2 separate regions of the Homo sapiens genome follow, and region 1 is linked to region 2. The links come from fine-mapping of genetic effects on gene expression. A gene starts in region 2. The other region holds a variant in brackets. All regions are shown on one strand. Distances are from middle to middle.

Evidence for each region.
Region 1: its variant is fine-mapped to the expression of ABCB1 in whole blood (TOPMed, PIP above 0.99).

What each region holds. Positions count from the first base shown.
Region 1 is chr7:87,676,245-87,687,531 of GRCh38, forward strand. All of the region lies in intron 2 of RUNDC3B (RUN domain containing 3B), which reads left to right. It also overlaps a transcript of ABCB1 not described here. Among named protein-coding and RNA genes, the nearest start is that of RUNDC3B, 53 kb to the left of the region's middle. The variant C/T (reference allele first, on the strand shown) is at 6,120.
Region 2 is chr7:87,594,609-87,605,895 of GRCh38, forward strand. It overlaps ABCB1 (ATP binding cassette subfamily B member 1), which reads right to left and starts at 6,276. Exons shown (of 28, transcript NM_001348946.2): 1 at 6,147-6,276; 2 at 5,509-5,582; 3 at 1,158-1,206. The coding sequence starts at 5,576. RefSeq lists enhancers at 4,379-5,578, 4,788-5,177.

The sequences.
Region 1 (11,287 bases), 82 kb after region 2:
CAAATGAAGTTTCTGCAAAGCAAAGGAAACAATCCACAAAATGAAAAGGCAACTTACAGAATGAGAGATAACATGTGTAAACCATGTATCCAATAAGGTGTTAATATCCAGAATATTTAAGAAACTCAGTAGAAAACAACAACAACAACAACAACATTAAAAAATGGGCAAAGAGGCCAGGCGCAGTGGCTCACACCTATAATTCCATCACTTTGGGAGGCCAAGGCAGGTGGATTGCTTGAGGTCAGGAGTTCAAGACAACCAGCCTGGCCAACATGGTGAAACCCCATCTCTACTGAAAACACAATAATTAGCCAGGTATAGTGGTGTATGCCTGTAGTCCCAGCTACTCAGGAGGCTGAGGCCCGAGAATTGCTTGAACCTAGGAGGCAGAGGTTGCAGTGAGCCAAGATCATGCCATTGCACTCCAGCCTGGGCAACAGAGCAAGACCCTGTCTCAAAAAAAAAAAAAAAAAAAAAAAAAAGATAAATGCCTTTACCATGTTCCATTACCTGGATCACAACTCCTTGCCTTATCTTAAAATCACTCATATTCCCTTCCACTAAATAATAAAAATGGGCAGAGGATCAGAAAACATACAGATGGCCAACTGATATATGAAAAGACACTCGATATCACTACTCATCAGAGAAATGCAAATCTAAACCACAAAATTTAATAATGCCTTACATCTGTCTAGATGGCCAGTATAAAAAACAATCAAAAGATAACAAGTGTTGGCAAGGATGTGGAGAAAAGGGAACCTTCCTACTCTATTGGTGGGAATGTAGATTAGGACAGCCATTATGGAAAACAGTATGGAGGTTCCTCAAAAAATTACAAGTAGAACTGCCATATGATCCAGCAGTTCTACTTCTGGGTTATTTATTGAAAGAAGATAAAATCAGTATTTGGAAGAGATATTTGCACTTCTATGTTTATTGCAGGATTTTTAACAGTAGCCAAGATATTAAGACAACCTAAGTAGCTGTCAACAGAAGGATGGATTAATAAACTACAGTGTATATAACACACACACACACACACACACACACACACACACACCACAATGGAATACCATTTCAGATTTAAAAAAAAAAAAAAAGGAAATCCTGCGATTTGCAGTAACAGATGAACCTGGAGGTCAATAAACTACATGAAATATGCAAGACACAGAAAGACAAATACCACGTGATCTCATGTATTAGATATGGAGCCTAAAAATAGTCAAACTTATAGTAACAGAGAGTAAAATGTTGATTACCAGAGGCTGGGGGATAGGAGAAAAGGGGAGATATTGGTCAAAGGGTACAAGCCTTCAGTTATAAGATGATTAAGTGCTGGAGACCTATATTGTGTACTTGAAAATTGCTATGATAGTAGATCTCAAGTGTTCTCACCATACATACACACACAAAAATCCAAAACAGAACAAAACAAAAAACCCAACAAAACCTCAAAAGGGATAAACTTAAAGTTAACTGCTTCTAAACACATGATAATCAAACTTCTAAACATAGAAGATTACAGCAAAAAATCTTGAAACCTGCCAGAGAAATATAATTTATTACATATAGGGAACAACAGTTCAAGTGAATGCAGGGTTTTCAACAGGAACCATGGAGGACAGATGACAGTGAAATAGCATCTTTAGAGTTCTAAAAGAAAAGCACTGCTAACCCAGAATTCTGTATTCAGTGAAAATGTACTTCAGAGATGAGGACAAAATAAAGAAATTCCCAGATAAAGGAAAACTAAGAATTATTACTAGCAAATCTGGTCTAAAAGAAATGCTAACAAAAGTTCTTCAGGCTAAAGGGAGATGGTATCAGAAGAAAACTTGGAACTTCATGAATGAAGAAAGAGCAACAGAAACTGTGAATATCTAAATAAATACAGCAGAGTTTTTCTCCTCTATTAAGGTCTTTCAATATGACTACTCAAGCAATCCTCCCATTTCAGCCTCTCAAAGTTCTGGGATTACAGGTGTGAGCCACCATGCCTGGCCCTGACTCTACTCTTGAAAGCAAAATTTATGGCATTGCTGGGGAAGGTTTCCAGGTTTGCATGTATAGTACAAGTGACTTTTAAAGCAAAGGCTACAGAGTAAAGGGAACTATGTGGTTATATATATTTAGTTGAAATGCTAAAATGTTAACTGTAGACTATTAAATATTAGGTGTTCTATTTCATAAAGTAGTGACTATAAAGATACTAAGAGTTTTTAGCCAAAAAAGCCAATAAATAAATTAAAATGGAACATTAAAACATTAAAGTTATCCAAAAAGAAGGTGGTGAAAAAAGGGATAAACAGAAAACAAACAATAAAATGGTAGACCTAAATCAAACCTTATTAATAGATATGTTAAATATAAATGGCCTAAGCACTCCAATTAAAAGAGATTTTTTGACTGGGTAAAAAAAGGACTCAATATATACAGAAACCCATTTTAATTATAGTGATAAAGATAGGTTAAAAGGATAGAAAAAGTTATTCCATGCAGAAAGTAATTGAAAAAAAGTTGGAGTAGATTTAATTATATATCAAAGTAGATTTCAGAACAAAGAAAACTGACAGGGATAAAGTTGGACATTTACATATTAAAAAGCAGATTAATTTGCCAAGAAGACAGAACAAAACCAAAGTATGTATGCAGCTGATAACAGAGTCTAAAAAGCAAAAGGTAACAGAACTGAGAGGAGAAAATAGAAAAATCTACATTATACTTAGCAATGTCAACACTCCTCTCATAATAGTAGATCAAGTAAACAGAAAATTAGTAAGGGTACAAATGATCTTGGCAATATTATCAGCCAACTGACATTTATAAAACACCCCAACTTTTTTTTTTTTTTTTTTTTTTTGAGACAGAGTCCCGCTCTTTCCCCCAGGCTGGAGTGCAGTGGCGCGATCTTGGCTCACTGCAAGCTCCTCCTCCTGGGTTCACACCATTCTCCTGCCTCAGCCTCCCAAGAAGCTGGGACTACAGGTGCCCGCCACCACGCCCGGGTAATTTTTTTGTATTTTTAGTAGAGACGGAGTTTCACAGTGTTAGCCAGGATGGTCTCCATCTCCTGACCTCGTGATCCACCCACCTTGGCCTCCCAAAGTGCTGGGATTACAAGTGTGAGCCACCGTGCCCGGCCCCCAACTTTTTTTTAAGACAGGATCTCACCCTGTCACCCAGGTTGGAGTGCAATGGCACAATCATGGCTCACCACAGCCTCCACATCCCCAAGCTCAAATGATTCTCCCACCTCAGGTTCCTGAGTAGCTGGGACTACAGGCACACACCACTACACCCAGCTAATTTTTTGATTTTTTATAGAGGCTAGGTCTCACTATGTTGCCCTGGCTGGTCTCGAACTACTGGGCTCAAGTGGTCCTCTCACTTCAGCCTTTCAAAGTGCTGAGATTACAAGTGTGAACCACTGTGCCTGGCCACCCCAACATTTATAATTAACATTTATAAAATACTCCTCAGTGGCAGAATATATATTCTTTTCGAGGGCAAGTGGAACATTAAAAAAGATCTTATTCTGAGCCATAAAAGAAACCTTAGCAAATTTAAAAGAATTGAAATCATATAAAGTATGTTCTCTGTAATGGAATGAAACTAGATGTCAAGAACAGAAGATATCTGAAAAATCACCAAATGTTTGAAAATGTAAAAATACACTTTTTTAAACAAATTATACTTTACATGTGCCATGGTGGTTTGCTGCACCCATCAACCTGTCACCTACATTAGGTATTTCTCCTAATGTTATCCCTACCCTAGCCACCCACCCCTAGACAGGCCCCAGTATATGACGTTCCCCACCCTGTGTCCATGTGTTCTCGTTGTTCAACTTCCACTTATGAGTGAGAACATGCAGTGTTTGGTTTTCTGATCTTGTAATAGTTTGCTGAGAGTGATGGTTTCCAGCTTCATCCATGTCCCTGCAAAGGACATGACCTCATCCCTTTTTGTGGCTGCGTAGTATTCCATGGTGTGTATGTGCCACATTTTCTTAATCCAGTCTATCATTGATAGACATTTGGGTTGGTTCCAAGTCTTTGCTAATAACTCTTGGATCAAAGAGGGATTCTCGAGGAAAATTAGTCTTTTGAACTGAATGAAAAACTAAAACGCGTTGTATCAAAATGTGTAGCATGCAATTAAAGCAGCACTTAGAAGGAAATTTAAAACATTAAAAACTTACTTAGAAAGAATTGTCTGAAATCAGTAACCTAAGCTTTCACCTTAAGAAACTAAAAAAGGGGCCGGGCCCGGTGGCTCACGCCTGTAATCCCAGCACTTAGGGAGGCCAAGGCGAGTGGATCACCTTAGGTCAGGAGTTTAAGGCCAGCCTGACTAACATGGTGAAACCCCGTTTCTACCAAAAATACAAAAAATTAGCCAGGCATGGTGGTGTGTGCCTGTAATCCCAGCTACTTAGGAGGCTGAAGGCAGGAGAATCACTTGAACCTGGGAGGCGGAGGGTGCAGTGAGCCAAGATCGCGCCATTGCACTCCAGCTTGGGCAAGGAGTGAAACTCCATCTCAAAAAAAAGAAAAGAAAAGAAAAAAGAAAAAGAAACTAAATAAAGAAGGGAAAATTAAACCCAAAACAAGCAAAATGGAGGAAATAATAGATAAAAGCAGAAATCAATGAAATTAAAAACAAAAACAATAATTGGTGATATGAAAGGATGATTGCTTGAAATCATTAATAAAATTCATAAACTTCTGGTTAGGCTGATCAAGAAAATGAGAAAGGATACAAATTTCCAATATCAGGAATGAAAGAGGGCATATGACTACAGACCTTACATTCAAAGGATAAAAAGTTAATTGTGGAGGAAATGGGCCAATTTCTTGAAAGACAAATCCTAACAAAACTCATAAAGAAGTAGATAACACAAATAGTCCTATATCTATTAAAGAAGTTGAATCAGTATTTAAAACCTTCCAACAATGAAAACTCCAGGCCTAGATATTTTTGCTGTTGATTGCAACCAGCCATTAAGGTAATAATAGTAATCCTATTCAATCCATCTCAGAAAATAGGAGATAACATTTCTCAACTCATTTTATAAGGAAACTATTAGCCTGATACAAAATTAGACAAAATATTACAAGAAAAGGAAACTCTACTCATACTGAGGTATATTGCTTGTTCAGTTCAAGACTAATTCAATAAAGTAAATATTGCTATAAAGCAAGTCACAAAAAATTTTTGGTTTCCCCAGTGCGTATTAAAAGTTGTATTTACACTACACTGTAATCTATTAAGTGTGTAATAGCATTATGTCTAAAAAATGTACATACCCTAATTAAACTACTTTACTGCTAAAAATGCTAACAATCATCTGAGCCTTCAGCAAGTCATTACCTTTTTGCTGGTGGAGGGTCTTGCCTCAATATTGATGGCTGCTGACTGATTGATGTGCTGGCTGCTGAAGGATGGGGTGGATATGACAATGTCTTAAGACAACAATGGGCTGGGCACAGTGGCTTACAGCTATAATCCCAGCACTTGGGAGCCAAGGCAGGAGGATCACTTGAGTTCCAGACCAGTCTGGGCAATATAGCAAGACCCCATCTCAACAACAACAACAAAGAGACAGCAGTGAATTTTGCTGCATCCATGGACTCTTCCTTTCATGAAAGGTTTCTCTCTAGCATGCAATGTTATTTGGTAGCGTTCTACCCACAGTAGAACTTCTTTCAAAATTGGAGTCAATACTCTCAAACCCTGCCACTGCTTTATCAACTAAGTTCATTTAATATCTTAAATCTTCTGTTGTTGTCATTTCAATAATGTTCACAGTGTCTTCACCAGGAGTACATTCCATTTCAAGAAACCACTTTCTTTGCTCATCCATAAGAAGGAACTCCTCATCTGTTCAAGTTTGATCATAAGATTGCAATAATTCAGTCACATCTTCAAGTTCTACTTCTAGTTCTCTTGCGATTTCCATGTTATCTGCAATGACTCCTTCCACCAAAGTCTTGAACCCCTCTAAGTCATCCATGAGAGTTGGAATCAACTTTTTCCAAATTCCTGTTAATGTTGATATTCTGTTAATGTTGATATTTTAACCTCTTCTCATAAATCTCGAATGTTCTTGA[C/T]GAATCTTTTCCAGAAGATTTTCAATTTACTTTGCCCAGATCCATCAGAAGACTCATTGTCTATGGAGGCTAGAGCCTTAAGAAATATACTTTTTCAATAGTAAGACTTGGGTCTAAATTACTTCCTGATCCCTGGGCTACAGATTGGATGTTGTGTTAGAAGCCATGAAAACAACATTAATCTCCTGGTACATCTCTGTCATAGTTCTTGGGTGACTAGGTGCATTGTCAATGAGCAGTAATACTTTGAAAGGAATCTTTTTTCTGAGTAGTGGATCAAAACAATGGGCTTTGAATATTTAGTAAGCCAAACTGTAAACAGAGGAGCTGTCATCCAGGCTTTGTTGCTCCATTTATAGAGCTCAGGCAGAGTAGATTTAGCATAATTCTTAAATACCCTAGGATTTTTTGGAATGGTAAATAAGCATTGGCTTCAACTTAAAGCCACCAGCTGCGTTAGCCCCTAATAAGAGAGTCAGCCTGTCCTTTGAAGCGTTAAAGCCAGGCATTAACTTCTCTTCTTTTACTATGAAAGGTTTAGATGGCATCTTCTTCCAATATAAAGCTGTTAGGTCTACATTGAAAATCTGTTGTTTAGTGTAGCCACCTTCATCAGTTATCTTAGTTCAGTCTTCTGGATAAGTTAGCACAACTTCTCCATCAGCACTTGCTGCTTCACCTTTTTGTTTTATTATTATTATTTTTTTATGTACAGAGATGGCTTTTTTCTGAAACTTCATGAACCAACCTCTGCTAGCTTCAAACTTTTCTTCTGCGGCGTCTTTGCCTCTCTCATCCTTCATAGCATTAAAGAGAGGACCTTACTGTGGATTAGGCTTTGGCTTAAGAGAATGTTGTGGCTGGTTTGGTCTTCTATTCAGACCACTCAAACTTTCTTCATATCAGCAATAAGGCTCTTTCACTTCCTTCATGTGTTCACTGGAATAGTACTTTTAATTTCCTTTGAACTTTTTCTTTGTATTCACCACTTGCCTAACTGGCACAAGAGGCCTAGGTTTTGGCTATCTCAGTTTTTGACATGCCTTCCTCAATAAGATTAATCGTGTACAGCTTTTGATTTAAAGTGAGATATATGCCACTCTTCACTTAGAGGCCATTATAGGATTATTAATTGGCCTAATTTCAGTATTGTTGTGTCTCAAGGGAATAGGGAGACCTGAGGAGAAAGAGAGAGATGGGAAATGGCCGGTAGCTGGAGCATTCAGAACACACACATTTATCAATTAAGCTTGCCATTTTATACAGGTGTGGTTCATGGCGCCCCAAAATTATTACAATAGTAACATCAAAGATCACTCATCACAGTTCACCATAACAGATACAATAATAATGAAAAAGTTTGAAATACTGTGAGAATTACCAAAACATGACAGGGAGACACAAAGTAAGCACATGCTATTGGAAAAATTGCACCGAAAGACTTGCTGGATGCAAGGTTGACACAAACCTTCAACGTGTAAAAAATACAATATCTGCAAAGCACAATAAAGTGAAATACATTAAAACAAGAAATGACTGTACATACCAGTACACCTCATGGACACAGACATCAGAATCTTCAATAAATATTGACAGATCAAACTGGAATGCAAGAATGCTTCAGTACTTGAAAATGGATGTATTTCATTTTATTAGCAGACTAAAGAATAAAAATGATAGGATCCTACTAATAGGTGCATAGAAAAGCATTTGACAAAATTCAACTTTAATTCATGTTAAAAAAAATCTTTACAGCTAGGTATTAGAAGAAAACTTCCTTAAAGGGCATCTACAGAAGTTTACAACAGGGTTTCTCAACATTGATACTGTTGATATTCTGGATGGGTAATTCTTCATTACAGATTGGAAAACTCGTTGTTAAGATGTCAGTTCTTTTCATATTGTTTTATAGATTCAATGCAATCTCAAAGTTTTAGAAGGCTTTTTTTGTAGATATAAAACTTACTCTAAAATTTATATGTCTAGGCAAAGTAACTGGAATAGGCAAAACAATTTCATGAAGGAAGAACTAAGTTGGAAACTCAAATTATCTGATTTTAAGACTTACTGTTAAGATGCAGTAATCAGTGTGTTATTGGTAAAAGCTTATACGTATAGATAAATAGAGCAGACCCAGCACTTTGGGAGGCCGAGGCAGGCGGATCATGAGGTCAAGAGATCGAGACCATCCTGGCCAACATGGTGAAATCCCATCTCTACTAAAAATACAAAAAATTAGTTGGGCATGGTAGCACGTGCCTGTAGCCCCAGCTACGCAGGAGGCTGAGGCAGGAGGATTGCTTGAACCCAGGAGGCAGAGATTGCAGTGAGTCGAGATCGTGCCACTGCACTCCAGCCTGGTGACAGAGTGAGACTCCGTCTCAAAAAAAAAAAAAAAAAAAAAAAAAAAGAATAGAATAGAATAGAGAGTTTGGAAAAAGATACACATAAATATGCTTGATTCATTTTGCTAATGCAAAGACAATTTCATGGAAAAGTGATAACCTTTAAGAATAATAGGCTAGGATTAATTGAATACCTGTGTGCAAAAAAAAAGTGAACCTTGTTCCTTACCTCACATTTAGCTCAAGGTGGGTTATAGGTGTAAACACAAAATGTAAAAGTATAAAACTCTTAAAAATGTAGAATATCTTTGTTTAATTAGGCAAACAGATTTTAGATATAACAACAAAAGTACAATCCATTAAACAAAAAAAATTGATAAAGTGGACTTCATCAAAATTAAAAGCTTTTACTCCCTGAAAGACACTGTTAATGATAAGACAAGGCATAGACCAGGAAAAAATATTTGCAAATCACATGTTTGACAAAGGGATTGTATGCATAATATACAAAGAATTGCTATAAAAACCTTAATAATATGAAAACCAATCCAATTTTAAAATATGCAAAGAGCTGAACAGATATTTCATCAAAGAAGATACACATATGGCAAGTAAACAAATGAAAAGATGTTCAACATCATTAGTAATTAGGAAAATGCAAATTCAAACCATATTAGGTAGCACTACACACCTTTATCAAGCTCTTTTGTCAAAAACTGGAAACAACCCAAGTATCTTTCATGTGATGCCTGGATAAACTGTTGTATGTTCATACACTGGACAAACTCAGTAATAAAAAGGAAAAAAAATTTCCACACACAACAACATGTATAAATGTCAGATACATTATGGCTAAATGAAAGAAGCAAAACCCTAAAGATTACGTATGATTCCATTTATATGACATTCTAGGAAAGACCAAACTGTAGTATCAGAGAACAGATAAGTGGTACTAGGGATTAAAGGTTGCAGGGTGGGGGTTGACAAGCATCATGATGAAGGAGTTTCTTTGCATGATGAAACTGTTATGTGTCTCATAATCATGGTTACATGACTCCCTCTATTTTTCAAAACTCATAGCAACAGCAAATTTACTACAAGGAATAAATGTATAACTCCCCCAAATTCTATTGCTTCCCATTAAAACATTTTAAAATGGGGAGGATCCCACTTTCGATTATAATATGTAAGATTCTAACTCCTTGATCCTCACTTATTTTAGAAAGCTGGACAATTTGTCACAGAGCCCAGTAAAAAGAAGTCCCAAGGAATACTCCTTTACCATCACCCCTCCATATTTTTCTTGGCCAAGTATTACTTCTACTTTTTCTCTGCTTTGGAAATGAATCATAACCTGAGTTCCCTGTTCTTTTTCTGAAACAGATGCCTTAAATTTACACTTGATGTATACTTTCTGCTTTTTTTGGCTTCCCTCCACCCACAATTTTTTTTCTTACAATTTTTCTATTCTCTTTACCTCATTCATTCTCTTATTCAACAACAAATTTAGGCCCTGTGCTGGGGGCCCAGGATATGAGATTAATAAGGTATGCTTTCACATGAAACTCAGTCTTGAAAGGTAGAATAAGGACACATTAACAAATAATTGTGTGTACTAATGTCATCAAGTCATAATAGAAGTATATTAACGAGCATGGTGTAACACAAAGGAGTATATCTGTTTTTCTTGGATGGGTGAGGGAAGGCTTTACACAAGAAAGAGGCATAGAAGTACCTCAAATGAAAATTACAGTTCTTTAAAATGTCATCTGTGACTTTGATTATTTATGGACTGACTGGTAGGCCACATAGATTAAGAAAAATAGAAATTTAGCAGTAAAGTCATCAGAGACAACGTTGTAAACTTCAGCTTGGTGACATGAGGATGGGATGTATTAGTGATTTTTGTAAAGTTTATATGGAAAATAACTGATTAAAATGAAAAAGTTAGCCAGGTGCAGTGGCTCATGCCTGTAATCCCAGCACTTTGGGAGCCAAGGCAGGCAGATCACTTGAGGCCCAGGAGTTTGAGACCCACCTGGGCAACATGGTGAAACCCCGCCTCTAGAAAAAAAAAAAAAAAAGAATTAACTGAGCATGTAGGTGTGCATCTGTAGTCCCAGCTACTTGGGAGGCTAAGGTGGGAGGGTCACCTGAGCCCAAGGAGACCAAGGCTGCAGTGAGCCATGATTGTGCCACTCCACTCCAGCCTGGACAACAGAGGGAGACTCTATCTCCAAAAGAAAAAAAAAAAAAAGAAAGAAAAGAAAAAGCTGAGTATACCAGACAAGTATAGACTGTCAATTAGAAATGTAGCACTTATTAAAGAAAAAATGATTAAATGTAAGACACTGTTAAATTGCGTATAATTTAATCTGCTAATTATACTTATTAACATTTGGCTTGCTGACTCACATTCAGTTTAGATTTTATATTGATTCTTAATATTTTTTCAGTTATATTTGTGTACAGCTAGTTTTTCCCCCACAACTTACTGTTCTCTACCCTTATCAGTCTTTTGATTTTTCTTGACTATATCAGGCACATTCTACCACAGGGCACCATTGCACTGGCTGTTTACTGTGTAAGGAGCACACTTCTTCTAGTATCTGAATGGTTAACACCCTCATCCATTTGAAAACTACTCCATGAGGTTTAACCCTTCCACTATATTTTAAATAATAAATCACCTCCCCTCCTTTCAACCTCAAGCACTCCTGACCTCTTTCCCCTGAGTTACATTAAGTCTTAACTTCTAGCATATTATTTTATGTACTTATTATGATTATTGTTTATTATCTTTCTTCACCTCCACTAAAACGT
Region 2 (11,287 bases):
AAGTAACAATGAAAACTGTCACTTGGTTACTCAAGTAGCCTAAGAATGACTCAAGTACATAGTCTCATCTCACCAAAATTCCAAAGGGCGTAGAGATAGAATAAAAGCAGGAGTCATGGCAAGAGCAATGGTAGCACAGAGAAACGAAGATCACATAAGGGAACCATAGAGTCCTCAGTGTAAAAGTCACATGACTGTTTTTTCCCTACCTACAACTATTTTTATAGTCAATTTATTAAAATCCATTTTGCAAGACAATCTATCCACTCCCTTACCTTAAAAAAATTGCTGTGTTATGACTGAATTATAAAGCATGTGCTGTTGGACTTAATTGGTTTAGTAGTCTTCCAGGTTCTAATCTCTGGAATCTTTCACCTAACAGTTCACCTAAATTTGTACTCTTAGAAAAAAGGAAGTAAGAATCCAGGTAAATAAGAGGTCATTAACTAGGCAGAGGTTGCAGTGAGCCAAGATCACAGCACTGAGGTCATCAACCAACCACACATATATGATACATGTCTGATTCCAAGTGTGATTAAAGAAAAGCTTCTAAAAAAACCACTGTGCAACCAGAAAATGAAATAAAGAGTTACAATAAGGTTTTCGAATTCTAGATTTTCATCTGTTTAACACAGGGGAATAATGGCATATGACATATTTGAAATCATAGTAATAAATAATCCATTGCTACCTTTTATTGTTAGTAATGGATTTTGAACTAAAATTTGCAATGGACTAACCTAAATGACCTAAAATTTGCATAGTAATAAATAATCCATTGCTAACTTTTATTGATAGCAACTGACTTTGACCTAAAAAACCTGCCAAATTTCAGAGCCATTAAAGACAGCATTCTATGTGATTGGTTTCCTCTATGCAGATGGGAGAGGTGCTTGTGTAGGTAATGGATCACTGGCAACATAATTCATTAGAAGAATTGAAATCTAAGTCAGGAATGGTGGCTGTAGATTAGTAATATAGATAGCAAGTTATGATCAGCATTCTCCTGAAAATAAGCTAAATCAAACCAATTTATTTTGCATCTCCATTAACATACCCTATACGAAAATCTTACATCAGATGAAATATCTCTTTTCCATGTAAGGAGATGTCAAATTTCCGAAGTATTTTGAATAGTTAATAAATTCAAAACTCACCATTGAAAATACACTGACAGTTGGTTTCTTTTCCTTCTTATCTTTTTCACTGCAAAACAGCAATGGAATTACATAAAACTTTAAAAAGTACATATTTTTTAAATTACCCAAATTAACATAGAATGTATATTTAATGACTAATAGGAAGAAGAAATATGTCTATATTATACAGTTAAAAAACAGGATGATAATAGTATGACCCCATTTATAATGTTTAAATATGTTTACATATATCTTAGAAATCTACATACGTGGTTATCACTGAGTGCTGGAATCTCTCTAAAAATATTTTCTTCCTTGTGCCTTTGATATTTCCTGATTTGCTATGATGAATACATACATACACCCTTTGCAATTAGAAAAATATACATACTGAAAAGAGTTCCCTGTTTTTATTCTAATTAGAAAATCATTCATGCTTCCCCTTAATTATGAATCCCCTTAATTGTCATTTGATTAATGATGGCAGTAGACATTTTATCCATCCACTACCCAGATATTATTCTTAATCCTTCCCTTTCTAGTGAAGAGAAGTGGCAATTAGATGCTGGGCATAACTAGCCTCAGAAGAAAATTAAATTACTCCTTATAAGCAAATCTAATTGTGAAAAAAATGTCTGGAGTCCTAAATGGACCATTATGAAATAAATGCACGCTAGAAAGCTATGGTCAGAAATGATGTTCTATAAATTGTCAAAAAGTTCTCCTCAGGCATAAGGTCAACTATTATTTTGAGCCCAGATACAAATGAATCTAACTCTGTAGCCCATTTTCTACTCTGTGTAACTGCTACCTAGGATGTGAAAGCAAACCAACCGTAACAAATCTGCCTCATCTGTATTTTTGTAGGTATAAAAGAAAAACTATTTTAGAAAAGATTTGTGTTATTTTTTACACGGTTTTTAAGTTCATAAGGTAAATTCATCTTTGTCTTTGTTCTTTACACTAAGTGAGGTCAAAAGAGGTGAGGAGACTTCTAAAGAAAAAAATCCAGAGTTTACCCATTTGGCTTTGGAGTAATGTTAGACAGACATAAAATACACAAACACAACTCTTCAGGTTTGGTCCCACCCAATTCCCAGTAAAGGCATGGTTTCAGTATCCCTGGAACCAGGATGAAAGGAGAAAAATAGCCATAAATAGTTGAGTTTTAGCTCTAAGCCTTTTATTTATTTTTTTGTTCTCTAAAACAGCTGCTACTCTGGAGAAGTTATAATGTTCCAGGCACTGGCTAAGTAAGCACTTCCCACACACAATTCATAAACAATTCTATGAGGAAGACACATTTTTGTTCTTTTAGAGACGTAGAAGAGTGAGAAGAGTTAACTTGTCCAAGGTTCACAGCTATAACTAAGCCAATATTTAAATGCCAAGTCTGTTCCCTGACCACCAAACTATAAGGTGCAACCTCAGATTTCTGAGATACTGCATCGCATCACATTAAAATGCACTTTCACACAAACTCTCACCCCTACTAGATAACTTACTTATCCCCATTAGCACAAAAAACAGTGCTTAGAAAGACAAGTCATTCATCAAACATCATTTTAATAAAGAATCTTTGCTAATAGTCATATTCCAAATAGGACTATTATCCCAGCATTATCTATTACCAAAGCCATATGCTTCTTTACAATCCCATGTTAAAATAGATTTAAATCAATGGCAATGAACACAATTTAATAAGAACTACTTTAAAATATAATCTCTAATTTGAAAAAAAAAGTCTATAGGCCATGATAGAACCAATAATAGAAATATGTGAAAGATCATACAATTTTCTTTACTGTTTCTCTTCACATACCCTCAATATTTCTTAGTTAAATCTACCTAAATGTTTGTATCATAAGTACATAATTCTTTAAGCTATCAAGTTTTCAAAAATACAAAGTTAAAAACAAAAAGTGGAATACCTACCCTCCACTCTATGGAGTCTTTTTCATGGTTTATATGAACATTTTTGTTACAAAAATTTTCAATTGCAATTACATGTTCTCCTACCATTATCACATCTAAGAAAAGTGATTACAATTCTGATATTGGCTAATATCTAATGCACATTCAAATCTCCCAAGAATGTTTTCCATAGGATTTTTTCCTTGTTGAACTTTTAGATTGTTTTTGTTTTGTTTTGTAATGTTCACACACTACGTTTGGTAGTTATATCTCTTTAGTCTCTATTAATCTAGAAGTCCTCCTTTTATTTTTTTAACATTGACTTTTGTAAAGGAACAAGAACAGCTGTCTTACAGAATGTCCCACATCTTGGGTATACCTGTATCAAACTGAATACAAATGGGAGGTGCAATAAATGTAAAATACACATCAAACAGGAGATTTAGCATAAAAGAGAATGTAAACTATCTTATTAATCATTTTGATTACATGTAGAAAATCCAATCTTTTGGACATATTGAGTTCTATAAAATATATTTACAAAATTACTTTATCTTTTTATTTTCATTTTTTACTGTTGCTACTAGAAAATTTTAAATTACAAATGTGGCTCACATGATATATCCATTGGACAGCCCCAGTCTACAAGTTTAATTGTATACAGACTAAATGTTTTTGCAGATATATTAATATTTGCTAGGTGATGTTGTTTACTCAAAATCCAAGTGATGAGTCATTTACTACAGTCCATTCTACCGTGAGAGATACCAGGTCTGATCACTCGGTTAAGGTGCTAACTGCAAAATCTTTAATTGGAGAAGCATATTCTCCTTCCAATTAGTAAACATTCTGAAGAAAATTCTTAGATACAACATTTTTCTGATAGTTTAGAGTTCATTGACAATCCTTGCCTGAATCTATTATAACAATGGAAGTTCCAAAATGATAGCTGGAATTTTTCTCTAAAGATCATTGCTTTATTTTCTCTACCTCTCACACTTTCTTTCAGTTTCCCTTCTCTCAGAATATTAAGCATTCAGCAGTAGCATTCAGTATCTCAAAATCAGTTACAGTTACGATGTTCTTTGATGCTCAAATTGTCCCAGAGTTGGCCATTGGAAGCATCTTCCAGACAGCTTCAGTGTGCTTTCGACTACTCCATTAAACTCCACTTCCTTATTTTCAGGTACCACAAGATACTCCAGGCTCACTTTCTATTTTTCCTGTCCCAGACCTGGCTGAAATTAGCTACTGAGGGGTTCATTTCTTTTAGGGAGGAATGGTATTTAGAAACCCAGATCTGGTACTAACAGTGCTCATTGTTACTGTCCCTTTCAGTGGACTGAAAATGAACTATTAAAAGATTATGAATTCATATTGAAATTTCTAATTCAAACTTAACATTATTTTTAAAAATGTATTTGATTTCCACATTTGTATTTTTTCTCTTACACTGAAAAGCTTGGTTTCTTATAATATTAATGTGTTTACTAATTTATCTTATAATTTACATTACAGTTTCTAATATTATTAAACTTACTAGTCTATTTTACAATTTACTACTAACAATGAATCTATTTAGTGAAGTTTTAAATATTCTATAAAGGCAGAGCACCATGATCAAAATTTACTTTAAATAATTATTTTCCCTATATGATTACATTACCAATATTATATACAGATATTTATTGCCAGTTAACAACCTAAATGTACTTTTGACCTTCTGTCTCATCAGCCAGGCCACAAACGCGATGTTTACATAGCCATTTACCGGAAGCAAGAGCCTGGACCACAGAGCAGATCACCAGCAGCATATGGCTCACGTGTGGGCGACCAACACCACTTGAAAAGCAGAAGTTCATAAGACAGAAACACATATGAGCATCCGCCTGTCTGGGGCAGGAAAGCTGAGAAAGAGGCACACCAAGACTAAGGGAAAGAGGCCGGGAAGGGTAAAAAGGTGAAATGAAAAGAGGTTGGTGAATGACTAAGAACGGTTGGATAGGACAAATAAGTTCCAATGTTCGATAGCAGACGAGGGTGACTACAGTTAGCAATATATTGTATATTTCAAAGTAGCTAGAAGACTTAAAATGTTATCAACACATAGAAATGAAATATACCTAAGGTGATGTATCCTTCAAATACCCGGACTTGATCATTACACATTCCGGGCATGTAAAAAACGCTTCCATGTACCCCATTTCATAAATATGTAAAATATTATGTATCATTAAAAGAAAGAACAAAAAAGACAGGGAAAATGCATATGCTGTGCTCCACTCAGCCAACAAACTTCTGCTCTAAGCAGGGATATTGATTCCAAAGGCTAGCTTGCGTTTCTTAAAAATAATTAAAAACAACAACATGTCATTTATTTCAGAGCTGGAGGCTAGAAATAAATTACTCAAATCTCGCAACTATGTAAACTATGAAAATGAAACAAGCTAGTTACCTTTTATTGTTCAGTTTAAAAAAGTTCTTCTTCTTTGCTCCTCCATTGCGGTCCCCTTCAAGATCCATTCCGACCTGAAGAGAAACCGCAGCTCATTAGCCAAATGCATGAGCCTCAGGCGCGCTGGAGGTGAGACTAACCTCTAGTCCCCCGTCGAAGCCAGAGAGCAGTAAGAGGGAGCGCCCGCCGTTGATGCCCCAGCTGCTCTGGCCGCGATGGGCACTGCAGGGGCTTTCCTGTGCGCGGGGTCTCCAGCATCTCCACGAAGGCAGAGTTGGGGGTCTGGCAGCGCGTTCTGGACTTTGCCCGCCGCCAGTGCGATTCTCCCTCCCGGTTCCAGTCGCCGCGGACGATGCTTCCTCCCACCCACCGCCCGCGGGCTCAGAGAGCAGGTCCCCGCACCGCGCGGGCTGTGCGCGCTCCGGGCAACATGGTCCAGTGCCACTACGGTTTGGGCGCTGCTCCAGGAGCTCCTGAGTCTAGATCTAACCCCACTTGGTCCCCATGGACTTGCCAGAGGACTTCACACTATCCACGCCTCAAGAAGCCCTTCTCCCGTGAAGACCAAGTTCAGGAAATCTGAAAGCCTGACACTTGGGAACTGTCCCATAGTAGCTCCCAGCTTTGCGTGCCCCTACCTCGCGCTCCTTGGAACGGCCACCAAGACGTGAAATTTTGGAAGAAGATACTCCGACTTTAGTGGAAAGACCTAAAGGAAACGAACAGCGGCCTCTGCTTCTTTGAGCTTGGAAGAGCCGCTACTCGAATGAGCTCAGGCTTCCTGTGGCAAAGAGAGCGAAGCGGCTGTGCTCAGCCCACGCCCCGGCGCTGTTCCTGCCCAGCCAATCAGCCTCACCACAGATGACTGCTCCCGGCCCGGATTGACTGAATGCTGATTCCTCGAGAAACTGCGAAACAGGTTGAATTTCCAGGAGGAATGTTCTGGCTTCCGTTGCACCTCTCTAGAAAGGGCAAGTAGAGAAACGCGCATCAGCTGAATCATTGGGGACATTTCAACTTATGTAGACACGTCTTTCAAAGTTCACATAAGTCTTCATATCCATATAACTACAGGACGTAGTTAAGGGAAATTTTCTCGGGATTCGCATTTAATACAGTTAATACAAAAACTCCGACCTCTCCAATTCTGTATCACCTTTCTGCTTCCTAACACCTTTGAAAAGGCTAGGAGAAATTTTTCTGCAGTGGTCTTTCTTCAGCATGCTTGACAGTTTCTGAGTTACATCTGTTCATCCTTTATTTGATGATAAATGGAATGAAAGAAAAAGGAAGTTTTAAAAAATATATAGAGACAGGTATTTCAAGGTACAAATGCTATTTCAAAGTGTGTAATATTTTAAAACTTCAGACGTCAGATCAATGCCCGTGTTTTTCCAGGGCATTTTAAATTCTTACATTTTAATTCAAATTAGTAAAATAAACATAGCATGTTTTAGCATATTACATTAGTTGTAATTTCCTTCCATATTTACTGCCAACATTTAATATTTTTTCCTGTCCACTATTTACTTCAAACTGAGGAAAAGTACGTGCAATCTGCACAATTCAAAATTGTAAAGCAATGCTAACTCACATCAGAGCTTTTCTTACTTCTTATGAACATAGAGGAAATAGGTTTGTTGTATCCTCTAGTCTACATTCTATGACTTTCACATATTACCTATCAGTTTATTGCATAAGTTTAGAAGAAGAAAATCACTTTGTTTTTTACTGCATAGTCTGAGGATGTTTCCACTTTCTTTAAATAACTCATACTTCAAAGCCATAATTTTTTTCTATTCTTGACTACAAATTTTCCTTATCTTGATATATTTTGTTCTTGGCCTTACAATACAATGAAGTTTTCTTTTGTTTTTCTTTCTTTTTTCTTTTTTGAGACGGAGTCTTGCTTTGTCGCCCAGGCTGGAGTGCAGTGGCAGGATCTCGGCTCACTGCAAGCTCCGCCTCCCGGGTTCACACCATTCTCCTGCCTCAGCCTCCCAGGTAGCTGGGACTACAGGCTCCCGCCACCACGCCCGGCTAATTTTTTGTATTTTTCGTAGAGACTGGGTTTCACTGTGTTAGCCAGGATGGTCTTGATCTCCTGACCTCGTGATCCGCCCGCCTCGGCCTCCCAAAGTGCAGGGATTACAGGCGTGAGCTACAGCTCGGCCTCTTTTTTTTTTTTTTTTTTTTTTTTTCACAAATTGTTAATTAGGCTTCTAACAGGCCACTATTTTTTCCACATGTTCTAATTGCATATGCAAGTGTACAGCATTGTTCACTGTTTAAAGGCTTAACAACAACCCTGTGGTCCATCTGGGGTAAATGTAAAAGCTTTCATCTTCATTACATGCGTTTTTAATCTTATTTGTGCCTATGATCTCTGTTTTCACTTTTGTTTTGCTTTGTTGCTTTATCTCACCTTTCATTTATGTAATCTTGTTGTATTTTATGTATCCTTTTGAATGGCCTTAAACCCTCCCTAAACAGTGCAGGATATAAATACAGTGCTATACTGTTATGTTGATTATACTATTTCTACAATCTTGAGCATCAGGTAAAGATCTCTATCAAAGATATAAGTAAGTTAAAGATCAGAATAACACAGATTTTAAAAATAAGATTCTACCATTCTATTATATTGTATTCCATTTCTTTGCTCCACTGACATGAAAGTGTGAATATAAAACATGATGGACCTAAAACAAACTAGCTCTTGCTACTTTCAACAGTCCTTGGTTTCTTGAAAGACACCAGTCTTGCATTTGTGCCACCACCACTTCTGTCAAGCTGAACTTGGCTGTTCTCCTTAAGCTTCCTTAATTTCTGATGAAACCTACCTGGTCCCCTTGCAAGTTGACACTCATATACCTTCATTCAAGCGGTGATATTTCCATTTGAAGTGACTGCCACAATCTGCACCTTCTTGTCCTCCGCTCTCATGTAGCCATTTCACCAACTTGTCTATACTCTGACAACATTAAAGATTTGCCTCTCTGCTGCAGTCTGTTCTATATGTATCTATGGGAGTAATAATATATAATGATAATAATAACAACTAACATTTATTAACTACTGGTCATTTATCAGGAACTGCCAAGCACTTCAAAGAAATTAAGTCATTTAATCTTTACAAGAATCCTATGAAGTAGTTACTATTTTTGTTACTCCCATATTACAATAAAAGACACTGAGGTTTGCATTATTTGCCCAGTCACACAGCAGGTAAGGTGCTAACCAGTAGTCCCTCTCTCATAACTGTACTCTTAACCACTATCCTACACTGTAGTACATTATCATAGGACACACCACTTCACTGCCTTTTCCAGTCCCACGAAGTGTTTTCTCCTTATGAGTCCATCTTGGAAAACCTGCAATGGCTCCCTGCCACAGACTATATCATATCTAACAGTTTCCTCTTAGCTTTTAAGAACCACAACACATCACTTCTCTCTAATCATCTTCCTCACCCTCAACATGTACATGTTCACTCCATTTCAGCCAAACTCACTGGGCTTCTCAGATGATATGTGCTTTTCACTCTGTGCTTTTCCACATGTAAATCATTAAACTAAACTAATTTACAAAAGTTTTCTTCTTTAGTACCTGGCTGCATTAAACTATTTGGACTTCAAAGGCAGAAAAACTTAGATAAGGACCATCTCTGCTGATTATTATGCATAGGTTTGAACGGGTTACTTAACTCTGCTATCCCACAGTTACCTTTTTGGTAAAGAGTAGATAGTATCTTCTAATGTTATGGCAAGATTAAGTGATTTGTGTATTTAAAAGATTTGTACAGTGCCTGAAACACCCTAAACATTCAACATTGCTATATATTAGTAATAATGCCCTCTTCTCAATCTCTTTTTGCCCTCCTTAGCATTCTTTGCAACTCATGTATGTAGTCACATCTATGTATCCATATACGTTTGACCTATTATTCTCATATCCCAGCTCTGAGTCCTTTATTATGAGTATTAACAACACATTTATAGAAATTAAAAAGCTGTTCACCTATTTTTCCTTCTCCTATGGTTTTTAATTCTTTTGGATGTTTTTCTCATAATTCTTTTATTGTAAATCTTATGTATCTTTCTCTGATCTCTCTAATAATTTATTTTCTGTATTTTTCCTAGCTCCTCTATTTAGCCCATCTGAGTCCAGATTGAAGGTTCAACATGCTTAAAGAAGGAATGCAACTCACCTCAATGAAGTTAATTGACCTGAGGCAGAGAAAGAATACAAGTTTCCACTCAGTCCAAAGAGCAAGACATATGACTCACTTGTGTTAACAATAATAACACAATATTGTTATTGTGTTACAATAACACAATAATAAGGGATCCACACACTCTCCACCCTTTCACATGTAATGATTTTTATGTATGAAGGACATGTGATGATAGGGGATATTAAATGACTGTACTTGATAGGGGATATTAAATGACTGTGCTTGAACTCATGTTGGATTACATCAGATTGCTTCTATGGACACCTGCATTGAAAAAAAAATCCAGATTCCGAAGGTCAATAGGATCATTTTCAGAGGTCGTTTGTCTTGCCATCATTTAGCCAATACAGCAACAGACATGAGTTGTGTGAAATGGTGATCAGATGATGATAAATTAATTTAATTTTAATTAAGTCGCTTAGTGAGTTAGCCATGTGATAAGTCGATGGCAAATGGAAACCTGAATTATACTCCTCTTTGAACACTTCCCCATCTACTACAGCCAGAAATATTTTCTACCACTCCGCAATCCTACTTTTCAGTATCGGCATCTCTCATTTTGTATTTATTATTAATGTTTCATATGATTATGAATTTTTTAAATATTCAAACTGGACAGAGACTTATACAAAATAAAGTTTCAATAAATGTTTGTAGAAAATATTAGGTGCTGAGAGTATGACATCAGAGGCAGATTTATGGAAATTACACTAGTAGGCTAAATGCCTAAGTTATCATTAGCGTGCCTTCAAAGATCCGTTGCCATGAACTATCTCCCTTATCAACTTCTTTTTATTGAGATGGAGTATTACTCTGTCTCCCAGGCTGGAGTGTAGTGTTAATAATCCAGGCGCACTGCAACCTCCGCCTCCTGGGTTCCAGCAATTCTCATGCCTCAGCCTCCTGAGTAGCTGGGATTATGGGAGTGCACCAGCACACCAGGCTAATTTTTGTAATTTTAGTAGAAATGGGGTTTCACCACATTGACTAGGCTGATCTTGAACTTCTGGCCTCAAGTGATCCACCCACCTCAGCCTCCCAAAGTGCTGGGATTATAGGCATGAGCCACCACGCCCAGCCTCCTCTATCAACTTCTAAGATCTTTAAAACTCCATTAGAGAATCATCTCTCTGAGTAAGTCACTGCCCCCTATTAAAATAAATCTACCATAATAGCACAAGAAATGTTTTTAAATGAATGACAAAATTAAGAGGAGAGAAGACAACTGAGTAAGATAAAGGGAAAGAAGAAAATGAAGTGGCAACTCTTGGAATTCCAGCTTCATGACTTACTAGCTGTGTGGCTTTGAAGAAATACTCCACTGCTCAAAAGACTTGATTTCTGTGTCATTTGAAGAAATACTCCACTGCTCAAAAACCTTGATTTCTGTGTCATTCAAATAAAGACAAAAACAGCATATTCCTAGGGTTTTTGTAAGAAGAAAATAAGGTAAGATTTGATGTGTGTTTAGTATAAATTGTATTATTTCCCAAATATCCTAATAAAGATGGTCAATGGAGCCAAGATATGAATAAAAATTAA